Linked DNA regions of Homo sapiens. The protein of the gene in region 1 interacts with the protein of each later gene in a biochemical or structural test. Each region holds a gene or a part of one and is shown on either strand. Other genes may lie near its edges.

Region 1 (7,023 bases):
CTACTGTGAGCAAAGCACAACACATACAGGAAAGACTTAGAAAGAGAGGGTATATTCCTGCACATTCTTGCCTACCTAGACTGAGGACCCTTGACATCTGCAAAGTTGACTGATGGAGGCCATATTCATCCTACCATATTGATAGTATTAACGTCAAGGAGGGAAACTTGCAAAAATATTTGGTAGGGTAAAATATAAACTAAACCTTTGGGAAAAGAGTGAGATTTAGCAGAAAGACAGGGAGAGGGGAGTGAGAATTCAGGACCAAGAGAATGACTTAAGACAAGAATATTTGGCTATATCAATTTAGAATCATGTCATGTGCCGCTATATACCGTGGTTTTTGTTTGTTTTGTTGTTTTGTTTTGTTTTGAGATGGAGTCTCACTCTGTCAAGCAGTGCTGCGATCTCAGCTCACTGCAAGCTCTGCCTCTCGGGTTCACGCCATTCTCCTGCCTCAGCCTCCCGAGTAGCTGGGACTACAGGCAACTGCCACCACGCCAGGCTAATTTTTTTGTGTGTATTTTTAGTAGAGACGGGGTTTCACCAAGTTAGTCAGGATGGTCTCGATTTCCTGACCTCATGATTCGCCCGCCTCGGCCTCCCAAAGTGCTGGGATTACAGGCTGTGAGCCACCACACACGGCCTACTGTGTTTTATTTACTACTTAATGCATATTTACAAAAGAATTGCCTTTCTTTCATGTATTTTTACACTTATTTAATAGGTAATCCAAGCACATGCTAAACATTTTTCAAAAGTTACAAGAAAGCAAATAGTGAACGATCTCTCTCCTAACAAAATAACCTGAAATACTCTATGAAATTGCATTTCTTTTCAACTATTCTAAACTTTAGACTTTCTTCTAATTCTGACTGGTATTTCCATAATTTACTGATTCCTAACCAGAAAACTATAATACGATTCTCTTTGTCCCATCCACAAATGTTGCACCAAAAACATTACCACTATACAATTGGAATTCAAGGTATATACAGGAAAACAGGTTTTAAAAGAAAAAGCCTGGATTTTCCCCTTCAGGTAACGTAGTTTTACTTCCTTTTTATAAGATAGAATTTTCCTCTGTATTCTGCCAACTTCTGTTGAGTCAATTAACTTACCGAGTGACTGTCTTTTAAAAAAGACACACACACACACACACACACACACACACACACACACACACACTCTTTATAATCTAGAAGCTTGAATCAGGGAACCAAAATTGATCATGGCTACTTTATATATTACTAGAGTATCAATTTAAGTGGTATTGTTTACAGCTGTAGTCTCCAAAACGGGGTTCATGTATGCCAAAACAGTGTATAAGGCTATATGTTGGGATGTAGGAGAAAATTACAACTTGCTTAGAATTGCTTTTTACTTTCTCCTTTCAAAATTTATATTGTAGGAAGCTTTATCATACATATAAGTCAATATATTGTCACATGTATAAAATTTATCAACATATATTGGGGTGTACACTCAAATATATTTTGCTAATAAAGGTATATAATAAAATAAATTTAGAGAATTAAGCAGCTCAGTACATGAGGTGATTATTTCTAAAATAAATAAATGTAGGCTGGGTGTGGTGGCTCTTGCCTATAATCCCAGTATTTTGGGAGGCTGAGGCAGGTGGGATCACTTGAGGCCAGGAGTTCCAGACCAGCCTTGCCAACATGGAAAAACCTTGTCTCTACCAAAAATACAAAAATTAGGCAGACATGGTGGCACACACCTGTAATCCCAGCTACTCAGGAAGCTGAGGCAGGAGAATCACTTGAACCCAGAGGCAGAGGCTGCAGTGAGCCAAGATGGCACCACTGCACTCCAGCCTGGGCAACAGAGCAAGACTCTGTCAAAAACAAAATAAAATAAAATAAACAAATGTACTGAGTTTCTAAGGTACATGAAATGCTAATTTGGGTTGAATAGACAGAGAATGCAAATTGTAAAAGGGAGAGATCAATGCAGGGCTAGCCTGCAAACTTTTAGAGGGAAAAGTAGGTAGCTTATTTTTTGATATGTGCTTATTTTCAACCACGTTACTGCTAAAAGAATTACTGAAATGAAGTGTATAAACCGTGGTTGAAGAGGAAGACCCTGAAGTCAGATTACCAGGTTCAAACCTTGATTCCACCAATTACTCTGGGGAAGACTAAATCACATATGTGTAAAGCATCTGTTCAGATGACAATGTGTAAAGCACTGTTCCACATCTGATACATCAGTAGTCAAAAATGTTAATAATAACTAGTATTAAATAAAAAGGACACCATTTATTTATTTTTTTGAGACAGAGTATACCTCTGTTGCCCAAGCTGGAGTGCAGTGGCGCAATCTCGGCTCACTGCAACCTCCGTCTCCAGGGTTCAAGCGATTCTCCTGCTTCAGCCTCCCAAGCAGCTGGGATTAAGGCGCCCGCCACCACGCCCAGCTAATTTTTGTATTTTTAGTAGAGATGGGGTTTCACCATGTTGGCCAGGCTGGTGTCCTATTCCTGACCTCAGGTGATCCGCCCGCATCGGCCTCCCAGAGTGCTGGGAATTATAGACATGAGCCACCGTGCCCGGCCTAAAAGGACACCATTTAAAAGACATTAGTTTTCTATAATAATGAGAACGAAACAGCCGAATCATGTTTTAATTCAACATGACCTTTGAAAAAGATGCTCTTTGGGTGTAACTGAAATATATTAGAACAAATGGAACAAACGGCTTTTTTCCTTCTCTTTTTACCCCCCAAATTCCCCTCAACATCACTCCCATGGACTATTTTGTCTTGGAACAGCTAATGTAAATTAAACAATGTCATCCTTAGTCAAACAGATACAGGAATAACTGTATACAGTATATCTTCTTGGCTTCACTTTTATGTGGAACATGTGTTTACATTTTGACCTTTTGTCTTTTTTTTAATTAAGAAACATTTTTAAACAGCAGCAACTGGAAAGACTTTTTTTTTTAGTTTCCAAACATATTAAGCTACACATGGCAGAGCCTATTGCTGAAACATTTATAAATGTTACACCAACTGTTTATAGTTCTGATTTTCTTATTTGATTGTTTTGTTGTCATGTAAGCCATGACCTGAAAATTTTAGCTCAAATTCTTTCCATAAAATTACATAATGAAACCGTCTGAGTCATTTTGAATTTGTGAAGCACAAAATTCGCTCTCATAAAATAATGATAAGCATCATAGTGAGGTTTTTAGAGTAGGATTTTGTGACTGTCCCAACCACAACTAGATGATATAGATAAGACAGGAAGGACAAGAACAGGATCAAGAACACAGTAACAATTCATTCAATTCAGAAAAATCACTGCATTCTTGTTTCTTTTCCATTGTCTCTTCTTAAGCAAGTGATAGGAAAATATAGTCTAATATTAGATTTCACTTCATTGAAAAAGAATCAAAGAACAAAAAAACCTGGAAATTCTGAAGACAAAAGTACTTTTCTTTAGCCCATCCTTTTAAACCTTATCAATCAACTTGATGGAAGACAGAAAAAATTCATATGATGTAAGTTAATATAAATAGCGCACAAAATGTTGGCAACAGTTGTATGAACAAACTCAAATTTATAAGGCCAAAACCTACCAAATTTGGATAAGGAACTTCTCTGTCTCTCACCTGCCCCATCTATTAACAAAATTGATCATACATACTATCTATGAGGCCATCTCTGACAAAAGGATGGTGTCTTAAGTCTAGGCAGGGAGCAGTGGCTCACGCCTCTAATTCCAACACTTTCGGAAGCTGAGGCAAAAGGACTGCTTGAAGCCAGGAGTTCAAGACCAGCCTGGGCAAGAAAGGAAGACCCATCTCTACCAAAAAACAAACAAAAACAGAAAAAAATGAAGTCTAAAGAGAGTAAATGTAAGACGAATCATTTCTTTTTTCTTAAAATAAGAACTATCCTACCTTCCAAGTTTCACACATTGTTTCTAATAGGCCATCCCAGATCTCAGCACTTTCTGTGATTCTCCACACTTCTAAAGTAGACCCTGCAGTTAGTCACTTCAGTCTTCTTCACTGAATCTCTCACCTTAAAATATTCCATCATTCCCCAACCTCCACTGTAGGACTTTATTACTACTACTACTGACAAACGATTTTCTTAATGGGTCAAAAATAAACCCCAAATTGATGGATTCATAGGTCCCCTGTTTGTATTTGCACAACTGAAAAAGAAACACAATTGTTTTTCAACATAGCTGTTAACAAAATCTTGACGGCTGGAAATTTACTGGAATCCATGGAATGAGATTTGCAACAATAAAATAACCATTCAATATTCACTCCTGTTCTACCCAGACACAGCACATCAATTTATGTGCATCCACAAAAAAAAAAAAAAAAAAAAAAAAAAAAAGCTGGTAACTGTCTTATCTAAAATAATAGCTAAATGGTTTGGTTTTTGATAGAAAAATTAAAGTACTAATGCTTCAATTTCTGTTTAGGTGTTTCCATTGTATGTCTTCAAAGTGTAAGTTACTCAAGCAAGCCTTCACAACTGGTTTTACTTCTCTCTTGCTCTCTCCCTCCCCCTTTCCCTTCTGACTTCATTATCTTTCTCCCTCTACCACCCTTCTTCCAAAGCCCAAAGTAATAGATGGTAAGAGAAGGGGTTTTTTGGTTTCCCAATTTCAACCCCTAAAGCAATCCACCTACTATTACTAGTAAAATGAATAATGTTCTTAACTTCTGCTTTGAAAATCACAATCACTATCTCTAACTCAAAATAATTTTTATTATCTTTTCTGACACTATTGTTTTATGCTCATAACTAAAATAATGGCTTCAATATTTTAGCCATTGTCATGAATGATTTAATCCATTTCAGGAGGATTTAAAACCACCATGTAAATCTCTAATAGCCAAAAACTATAAAGTCTCATTAATTACAAAATCCTGGAGCTCTTAGCTACAAATTATGAGCTGAAAAGATATGGATTTTATTACTGTATAACATTAAATCCTAAGTAAAACTGCCACATAAGCTCATTCCCTGCTTCACCTCGCCAAGAAGTGCAATACTGGATTCATTTCCATAAAACACAATGAAATTGCTATTCTGCAAAAAAAAAAGTATATAACTCTGTAAGATTTTATATCAATGATATAAACTTTACAATATTTTGCTTGACCTTAAGGATGTTTTGTAAATTCTCCAAATTCCCTTTGAACTGTAAAAACCAAAAGGTAGGTAAGATTCCAACAAGACTGGACATGGGACAGAGTTAAGAGGATTAAGCCACAGTTATTACATGGTAAATTTCTATTTATTACTTTTGATATGCTTGTCTTATGGGGTATGAGTCTATATTTTTGGTATGTGTATCTACTTTGAACTCTAGATCTTTTTCTTCTATAACTCAGAAAATCAGCTCTTTATTTTCTATCACGGTAGTTATTTTTTCTCCCAGGTTGACTGCTCTGCATGTGCCCATGTGTAGTTAATTTTGTTTCTGACCACTTGTCCATTTATCAGAGTAATCTGAATGGTATTTACTTCATTTTTTGTTTCAGCAATTCCACTGAAGAAATTATGGGGCAACACAAGATCTCTTGATGATGCCTATATAAAATCATGAATTACCACAGATTTTACTCCAAACTAGTACTGATGCAATGCTATAGCCTACCGTAAACCTTCTAAGAAATTCAAGGCCTAGGGATGCTACCCTTTCAGACATGACATGTCAAACTGTATTTGCTTTCTCTAGGACGGGGAAGAGGGAGACAGAGTAGATGCCAAGAGGTTTCCATTATGGCTTCTTTCTGGCCTTTGAGAGTTTCCCTAGAAAGGGTCACCATAAGCCACTATCATTCTAACATCTAAAGCTTGCTCTTTCGACCAGAATTGATAGCAAATGGAAAGTAACAATTAGAATTTATAAGACTGGAAGAGAATAGGAGAGGGAAAAGAAAGCTATTAGAAGAGGAAGGGATCCTTTGGAAAGGTAGGAAAGAAGATGACCTTCACCCATCTGACTGTTTGCTCTAGCGCCACCTACAGCCACACCACCTGACCCTCAAAAATCACCGACCCCTGGCCAGACAACATTTTTTCCAGCTAACTGCAGGTGCCTGGCTTATTTGATTAAACCACCACATTATAAGGTCAAGGTCACATGCTTGATCCCTACGTTTGTCCTACGTTTGTCAATGGGCACAAGTTGCATGGTCAAAAACTTGCCTTTTAACTCCAACCTCTCATAAATACCATCACTTACGTTAAAGACATTCACAAGAGAGGATATGAACCAACAATGCAAATCCATCAGCATTACTAAAAGAAAAAAAAACAGGAAAACCTGACTTGTGAGTCAGCCCACAGAACAAATTCCATTTAAGAACTCCCTGATCATCCTGGGCTTCAAGGTTAGATACATAAGAGTAAGAAATCAGGCTTCCCTACTTACTCGTTTTATGTGTGACCTTGGACAAGTTAATTTTTCAGAGCTTTAACAATAAAACACATTAAGGGTCCCAAATAGAGCTTGACATATAAGGGATACTCAGGTTATGCTAGCCCCAGCCCCATCTGGAGATAGAATCGGGCAGTCAAGAGCACAGGGATGAAGCCAGGTCCACCTGTATCCCAATCTTGATTTTGCAGCTCACGTGAAACACTGGGCAAGTGATGGCCTTATCGTTCTCATAAAGCTGAGACAAAAAAATTAAAGCATTTAGACAGCACACAGCAATTGTCAACTAACGGCAATTATGTTTTAAATGTTAAGAAGAATATAGTATTATCACTATCTGTTAATGTTTTCCAAAGTACAGTCATGGAACTATTGATATCAGAATGACCTGGGTGGGATGTCTACTGAGGGGGAAGAAAAGGATATCATGTCCCATCTCAACCTATTTAAAAAAGCTCTCCAAAAATGGTACAGGGTAATGGTCATTTCTGAATCAAACTTCCTTGAGATATCTATGAAAATTTCAGAATTACTGACCCAGCAGGTCTTGTGCTGTGTCATAGTAAATTAAGACTTGTTTTCCA
Region 2 (7,862 bases), on another chromosome or scaffold:
TCTAGATAACATGGTAACACATATTTCTCCATAGAAATTAATAATTTGGGAATTGTGATTTAGAAACAAGTCTCTTTTGAATTTGGATAATGTGTGTCAATTCCTAAAACCTAATAATTCATTAGTAACCCAACAAATACGATTTACTGAATGCAGACATTGGATATTCCCACCAAGGCTGAAAAGCTGCAAGAGGCTCAGGCTCTTTTTGCTCCTTCATTCAACACATGTTTATTGACTGGCTACTCTATCTAGGTGCTTAGAATACATCAACAAAACGACAAAAATCTTTGACTTCATGAGAGAGAGACAACAAACAACAAACATAATAAACTAGCAAATTACACATTAGAATTTGAGGGTTGTTATTTTTAAAAAAGAAGAAATCGGGTAAGGAAGATTGGGTTGCAATTTTAACTAGGGTGGTCGGGGCAGGCCCTTGAGAAGGTGGCATGTAAGGAGACTTGAAGGTGAGGGAGTTAGCTAGTTAGATATCTGAAGAACATTCTAGGATGGGAGCATGCCTGATACATCTGAAGAACAGCAAAGTCCCTAGGATGGGAACATGCCTGATACGTCTGAAGAATAGCAAAGAAACCAGGACAAATGAGGCAGAATGAAGGAGGGGAAAGAGAGTAGATAAGAGGCCAGAGAAGTAACTAGGGAACTAATCACATAGGGCTTCATAAGGAAGGGTAAAAGAACCTGGAAAGGTGTTCATCTTTGCACCACCACAGTTCTGTCAAGGTGGAAACCTGGCCCAAGGCCAGTCAATTCATTGGCCAGCCAACAACCAATCTTAAATTTCTAACTTAAATTTTCAGCTACAATACACAAAGACGCTATACAATTGGTGGTGAGCTTTAGGGCTAATTAGTCAAGAAGCACGCCACCCTAGTCCCTATCATAGTAAGAGAAATCCATACACAAGAGGCTTTCTGTCAGATGGAAGGAAGCAAGCATAGAGATGTGTTGCTTAATGATGGGGATACGTTCTTAGAAACGGGTTATGAGGTGAGCTTATCGTTGTGTAAATATCAGAGGGTACTTAACATAAACCTAGCTGGTATAGCCTACTCCACACCTAGGCTATATAGTATAGCCTATTGCTCCTAGGCTACAAACCCATACAGCATGTTATTGTACTGAATACTGTAGACAGTTGTAACACAATGGTATTTGTATATCTAAACACAGAAAAAGTGATGCATTGGGCTACAATGTTATGACAGCTACAATGTCACGAAGTAATTGGAGTTTTTCAACTTCATTATAATCTTATGGGACCATCCTTATACATGTAGTCCACTGTTGACCGAAATATCATTACTTGGGGCTTGATTATACATAGAAAGAAGGCTAGAGTTGCCAGATAAAATACAGGATGCCCAGTTAAATTTAAATTCAGATACACAATGAATAATTTTTTAGTATAAATGTGTTCCAAAATATTGCACAGGACAAAAATTTATACTAAAATATTATTCATTATCTGAAATTCAAGCTTAACGGTGCCTCTTGTATTTTTATTTGCTAAATGTGGCAACCCTAACAAGGTGAAAGGTCATAAGGTCAAAGAAAGAAAGCAGGAGAGCACAGCATCTTAGTTCTGATTTTCCCCATCCAGGTTCTCATCCGCCCTGGCTATACTTCGCTTCCTGTCCATGACTAGCGGCGAGATTGTTTTATAACAATCCAAACTTTTATTTGATCTACTCTGAGTGAATTTCTGTTCTTAGCAAGGGACATGGAAACATTTAGCAATTCCTCTGCAAAAGAGACACTTCGGCATCAAAGAAACAACCAGCTTAATAAATACTTTGGGGAGATGTTTGTCCTCCTTCTCAAATTACCCGTGAAAAAAAAACATGGTGATGTGTTTACAGGAGCTAACTTGATTTATTTCACAAAACCAAGAGTAAATACAGAAAAACACTGGCCAGAATATGTCAGCAATCATTACACAGCCTCTATCTAGGAATGTGTACCCTAGATTCCCACACAAAGGAGACTGGGATTCCCAGAGGCAACACCACATTGCTGAAAGCAATGCAAGGTTCAGGTGAAAAACCTGGGATTGCAGAGGGCAAAATTGGAAAAAATCATGCTTATAGCTGGTTACAGTTCTTGCCACGGCAAATTCAATAAACATTTATTTATTGAAGCGCCTAGTATATGTATCAGCACTAGAATAGGTGCTCAGAAGGCTACAAAAATGTGTAGAACAGGAACTTAAGGAACTCAAGGAGCGTGGAGAGAGAGAAAACATAAAATGGACAACCAAGCCGTTAAAATAAACTGGGGTTTTATTGGCCCAAGAGGAGCCAGCGGACCCAGTCTATAAGCAATGCTTTGACGCAGAAGTTAAAAAAAACAAACAACAACAACAACAAAAAACCTAAAAACAAGCATGGGATAAACTGGCACTTCTTTTCGCCCAACTTGGATTTGCCCAGAGAGTTGGAGAGAAAAGATCATTTTTGTAGGGCATTTTATGCAGGAACGTTGAGTGAATCTCCGAGTGTACAAATCGTTGCACACTTTCTGGGTACCAAAACGCCCGGAACAGGTTTCAGGAAAATCGCCCCCCGAAGCGGAGCGCACCCGCGCCTTTCGATGTACCCGAACCCCCGACCCCAACCTGAGTGCGGCCACCTGGAGGGCTCGGAGCTGCCCCCACCCGACCAAGGACAACCGTGGGCAAGAGGTCAGTCCAGAGGGTCGTGTTTCGTTCGCCATGCCCCTGGCCAGGTCCCACCATCTGGGAGCCCACCTGGCCTAGGAGGCGACGGACGCGGAGGAAGGTCTGCGGCGGTCCTTACCGTACAGAAAATCATACGCTCGATTGGAGGAGATGTGGCTCCCAGCCCGCGACCTCTCCCGGTACCGAGTTTGAGACACCTGCGGCTGGGCCTGGGGCTCCTCGATGGTTACTGCGTGGCTCATGGTGCCGCCTCTTTCCTCCCGCCAGCAAGGGACCAGCGGGTCAGGCCTGGCTACTGCGTGCACGTCGCTATGGTAACGGCCGCCGGCGCGCAGGGATAGGGGGCGGGGCAAGGAGGAGGGAGGAGGCCGCGGGGCGGGGCCGAAGAGGAGTGGAGAGAAGTGAAAGCAGGAGTGGCCAGGCCAGGGTCAGGAGGAGAGTGGAGGGGAAGATGAGAAGAGAGGGGAGGGGCAGGATGGGGGAGGAAAAGGCTGGCTTCCCTCTATACTCCAGAGCCAGCGGGGAGGCTGGGAGAAAGCTACTCTTAAGTCATTGATTTGCCAGTTACACCTCGTAGCCTCTCGGAAATCCCTGGGAGATCTCAGAACCTTCTAGAATAATTGGGTGCCTCCCCGCCCCTCCCCCCAGCCCTTTTCCAGGGGGCTTGTCCCGAGAGCTGCGGAATCCAGTCAGGTTCCTAAATGTTGCTCCTTAGCACGCTGTGAACTTTGCCCCACACTCATTAGCATCAGTGTTTAGGATGGGTTAGGACATCAGTAACTGTTGATCTGAGACTGCTGACCCTTTCTGAGTCCTGGGCATTAAATAACAGAAGATGATGTGGGGTAGGCACTGGCTCTGCTTTTGAAAACTATTTATAATGGAAAATTTTAAACATAAGCAAAAGTGATTCTACTTTTAATAACAAACCCTCAAGTAACCCATCCCTCAGAATCAACATTTAGCAACATTTTGCCAATCAAGTTTCAGTTTCCTTCCCCTCTTTTTTAAAGAAATCCTAGACATAATATTATTTTACCCTTAAATTAGTCTGCATCTCAAACTGACATAGATTTTAAAAATTTAACTACCGTTATCATATCTAACAAAATTAACAATAATTCCTTAGTACTATAAATAATTCCAATTTTCCTGTTTGAGTCCAAATTATCTTTTATAGTTGGTTTGTTCCAGTCAAGATCCAAAAAAAGTCCTCATGTTGCATTTTGGTATGTCTCTTAAGTCTTTTATCCTAGAGCAGTGAATTTCTAATCCTTTCAATAATTCTCTATTATTACCAGAGGTTCTTCTATAAAAGGAATCTTTTCATACCAACTCATTGGTTATCCTGAGATAACCAGGATAATCTCATAGAGGAAAGACTGGGTAAATGCTGGATTTGTTCTTTTTAATTATGAAATTTCAGAGACATGAGTTGGTGCCCTACCAAACTCCAGAGTTAACCACAAAGTTTTTGTTTGTTTGATATCATTATGAATGCATGCATTTTTTACAGATCTGATGTTTTAATCCGTTATGATCATTATTATTTATTACACTCAGATTATTAAAGCTAATGGCATGCCTTAGAGTTGGCTTCTTTGTCCTTTAATGTTGAGACGAGAAGTCTTCTTCCGATCAAAGGTTTTTCTCGATCGAAGGGTTCATGGTCTCACAGGCTTCAAGGAATGAAGCCGTGGACCACAGTGGCAAGTGTTACAGCTTCACTAGAGAAATGCGTGGACCCAAAGACTGTGCGGTGGCAAGATTTATTAAAGCCAAAGCAAAAGTAAAGGGAAAGCGAAAGTAAAGCTTCCACGTGGTGGAAGGGAACCTGGAAGGGTTGCCATTTCTGGTTTGGGTATCTTATGTTTATATCCCCTTATGACTCCTCCCCTTTTCCTTTTTCTGTCCCATAGGATTAGGTTATTTTCTATCCACTTGTGGGTTTGTAGCCGGACGAGCCACAGACAAGAACCGCTCAGACACCGAGTTATGGAAGGAAAGGGCTTTATTCAGCTGGGAGCATTGGCGGACTCACATCTTCGAAAACCGAGCTCCCGGAGTGAGCAATTCCTGTCCCTTTTAAGGGCATACAACTCTAAGAGGGTCTGCGTGAGTGGGTCGTGATCGATTGAGCAAGTAGTGGGTATGTGACTGGGAGCTGCATGCACTGGTAATCGGAACAGAACAGAATAGGACAGGGATTTTCACAATGCTTTTCCATACAATGTCTGGAATCTATAGATAACATATCGGTTAGGTCAGGGGTCAATCTGTAACTACCAGGCCCAGAGCACAGTGCTGGGCTGTCTGCCTGTGGATTTCATTTCTGCCTTTTTGTTTTAAATTCTTCTTTCTTTGGAGGCAGAAATTGGGCATAACACAATATGAGGGGTGGTCTCCTCTCTTAGGTTGGTGGGCCTGATTGGTTAAAAACATCAGGCTGCAGCTAGAGCTTAAACTCTCTATATGATTGGCTGAAGTTTCAATCCCTTAATTTGCAGCTGGGACTCACTTTGGCTTAGGGGAAAGTCCCCTTTGATTGGTTGAAGTTTCAATCCCTTAGCTTGCAGCTATGACTCATTTTGGCTTAGGGGAAAGTCCCCTTAGGGAAGTCCCTATTGAACCAGGAAGTCCAGCCAACTTAGCCACTTAGTCCCTCAATGTGATCCACAGACACTTCCTGAATACGCTTCCTGGCCTACTACTCTTTCTGCATATACTCCTGGTTTTAACTTATTGTCTCTACTCCTAAACTTCTTGGGGTTTTTGAAAACCAGCCATGTCCTAGGTCTGTCTGTGTACTTTCTTGTAAAATCCAGTTTTAGCAAAGAACCGTGCTATGTCAGTTTGGTAAGAATCCCCCATCCTAGATATCTGACTGGGGTCCTCATCCTTCGCTTTCGCTTTTCACCCCCAGGTGAAGTCTGATTACCCTGGCTGTCTTCAGCAAGAATCCTTTGAGATGAGTTTAACCAGAATTCTCTTTACCTCTGATATTTCCTCTTAGTAATTTTTCATCCACTGACCCTCAGCCTGCTCTTTGCTATAAATTTCTACTTGCTTATGCTATATTCGGAGTTGAACCCAATCCCTCCCCCAACTACAAGACCCTGTTGCAGTAATTCCTATATCTATTGCAATGGTCTTGAACGCACTCTGCCTGTCCATGCCTTAATAAGATCATTGAATAATTTTTTCTTTAACACCCCTCAACTAATTTAGGTACATTTCAACACTCACCTCTAACTTTGCCACTTCTATGCAGTTTCCTCATATCTTTCAAATACAGTGAGATATCATCCTTCCAATGCTGTAGTAGCACCAATAGCATTGACCACCTTGTATTAGTAATCAGTAATTGTTCACAACTCTGCTTCCCACAACTTTGAGTTCACTGAGGGCACAGCCCTTCACCTGGTCATTTTTGTATCTCTGAGGTATCTGGTACATGAAATCTTAATGAAATGATTACTAAATCCATCCCTTTGTTAAATAAATTTACTGAATGTCTACTATATAATAGGTGTTAAAGATTTTGAGATAATTTGTACAGCTCACTGGATGATAGAGAAAGCTGACACAGAAGCAAAGTACAATATAATAATGGTATAGTACTTTTCTGTCTGGGGTACAGCTACGTTCTCAGAGCCGCCCACTTTTCGTTTCTTCTTCTCAATGTTCCTCACTCCCACCTCCTTATCTTCTCACAGCTAGCTCCTCAACATATGACATCACCTAAAATGTTCTCTCTATACCGGAAAGGGGTCTGCATCCAGACCCCAAGAGAATGTTCTTGGATCTCACGCAAGACAGAATTCAGGGCGAGTCCATAAAGTGAAAACAAGTTTATTAAGAATGTAAAGGAATAAAACAATGGCTATTCCACAGACAGAGCACCCCCGAGGGCTCTGATTATTTCTTGATGATATGCTAAACAAGGTGTGGATTATCCATGCCTTCCCTTTTAGACCATACAGGGTAACTTCCTGACATGCCATGGCATTTGTAAACTGTCATGCTACTGTGGGAGTGTAACAGTGAGCAAAACCAGAGGTCACTCTCATGGCCATCTTGGTTTTGGTGGGTTTTAGCCAGCTTCTTTGCTGCAATCTGTTTTATCAGCAAGGTCTTTATGACCTGTATCTTGTGCTGACCTCCTGTCTCATACTGTGACTTAGAATGCCTAACCATCTGGAAATGTAGCCCAGTAGGTCTCAGCCTTATTTTACCTAGCCCCTACTCAAAATGGAGTTGCCCAGGTTTAAACGCCTCTGGCAATCTCATCAGAAAGACTTTTCCTCAGCCAGCCATGGTGACTTACGCCTGTAATCCCAGCACTTTGGGAGGCTGAGGCAGGCAGATCACCTGAGGCCAGGAGTTCAAGACCAGCCTGACCAACATGGTGAAACCCCGTCTCTACTAAAAATACAAAAAAATTAGCCAGGCGTGGTGGTAGGCGCCTGTAATCCCAGCTACTCAGGAGGCTGAGGCAGGAGAATTGCTTGAACCTGGGAGGCGGAGGTTGCAGTGAGCTGAGATGGCACCACTGCACTCTAGCCTGGGCAACAAGAGCAAGACTCTGTCTCAAAAAAAAAAGAAAGAAAAGAAGAAGAAGAAAGACTTCTTTTCCTCATTCTATCAGATAAACTATCTAAGGTAGTCAACAGCCAGCAGCCTCCATAAACACATCCGAAGACACTATTACCTTGATTTTTTTTATAGCACTGAAATGTTACTGATTTGCTTATTTATTATATCTCCTCCCACTAGAATGTAAGCTCTGTGAGACCAGAGACCTCAAATGTCCTGTTCACCCTGAATTCATCCATATCTCTTAGGCCAGTAAAACCACCTTTGCAAAAGATTATAACTGAGAAAATTATGACAGTGAGAAAAATCTGACATGGCTGAGTCCATCTTGACTCTAGCCTCACAGGTTGGCTGTCTTTGCTCATTCTGGGACATGAGCCAAGCTAACTTTGGGAGAAATTTAGAGTATACTTTTGTTTGTTTGTTTTTTGTTTTTGTTTTGAGATGGAGTCTTGCTCTGTTGCCCAGGCTGGAGTGCAGTGGCACAATCTTGGCTCACTGCAACCTCCACCTCCCAGATTCAAGTGATTCTCCTGCCTCAGCATCCTGAGTAGCTGGGATT

Evidence for each region.
Region 2: the proteins of PRKAR2B (region 1) and CFAP91 form a complex in vitro, tested with the Homo sapiens proteins (one study listed by BioGRID).

What each region holds. Positions count from the first base shown.
Region 1 is NC_000007.14:107,047,691-107,054,713, reverse strand, and holds part of PRKAR2B (cAMP-dependent protein kinase type II-beta regulatory subunit), read right to left. Parts: intron 1-7,023. UniProt on the Homo sapiens protein: Regulatory subunit of the cAMP-dependent protein kinases involved in cAMP signaling in cells. Type II regulatory chains mediate membrane association by binding to anchoring proteins, including the MAP2 kinase.
Region 2 is NC_000003.12:119,698,183-119,706,044, reverse strand, and holds the start of CFAP91 (cilia- and flagella-associated protein 91), read right to left. Parts: upstream 3,024-7,862; 5' UTR 2,947-3,023; coding exon 2,823-2,946; coding exon of another isoform or gene 2,774-2,822; intron 1-2,773. UniProt on the Homo sapiens protein: Involved in sperm flagellum axonemal organization and function. May regulate cilium motility through its role in the assembly of the axonemal radial spokes.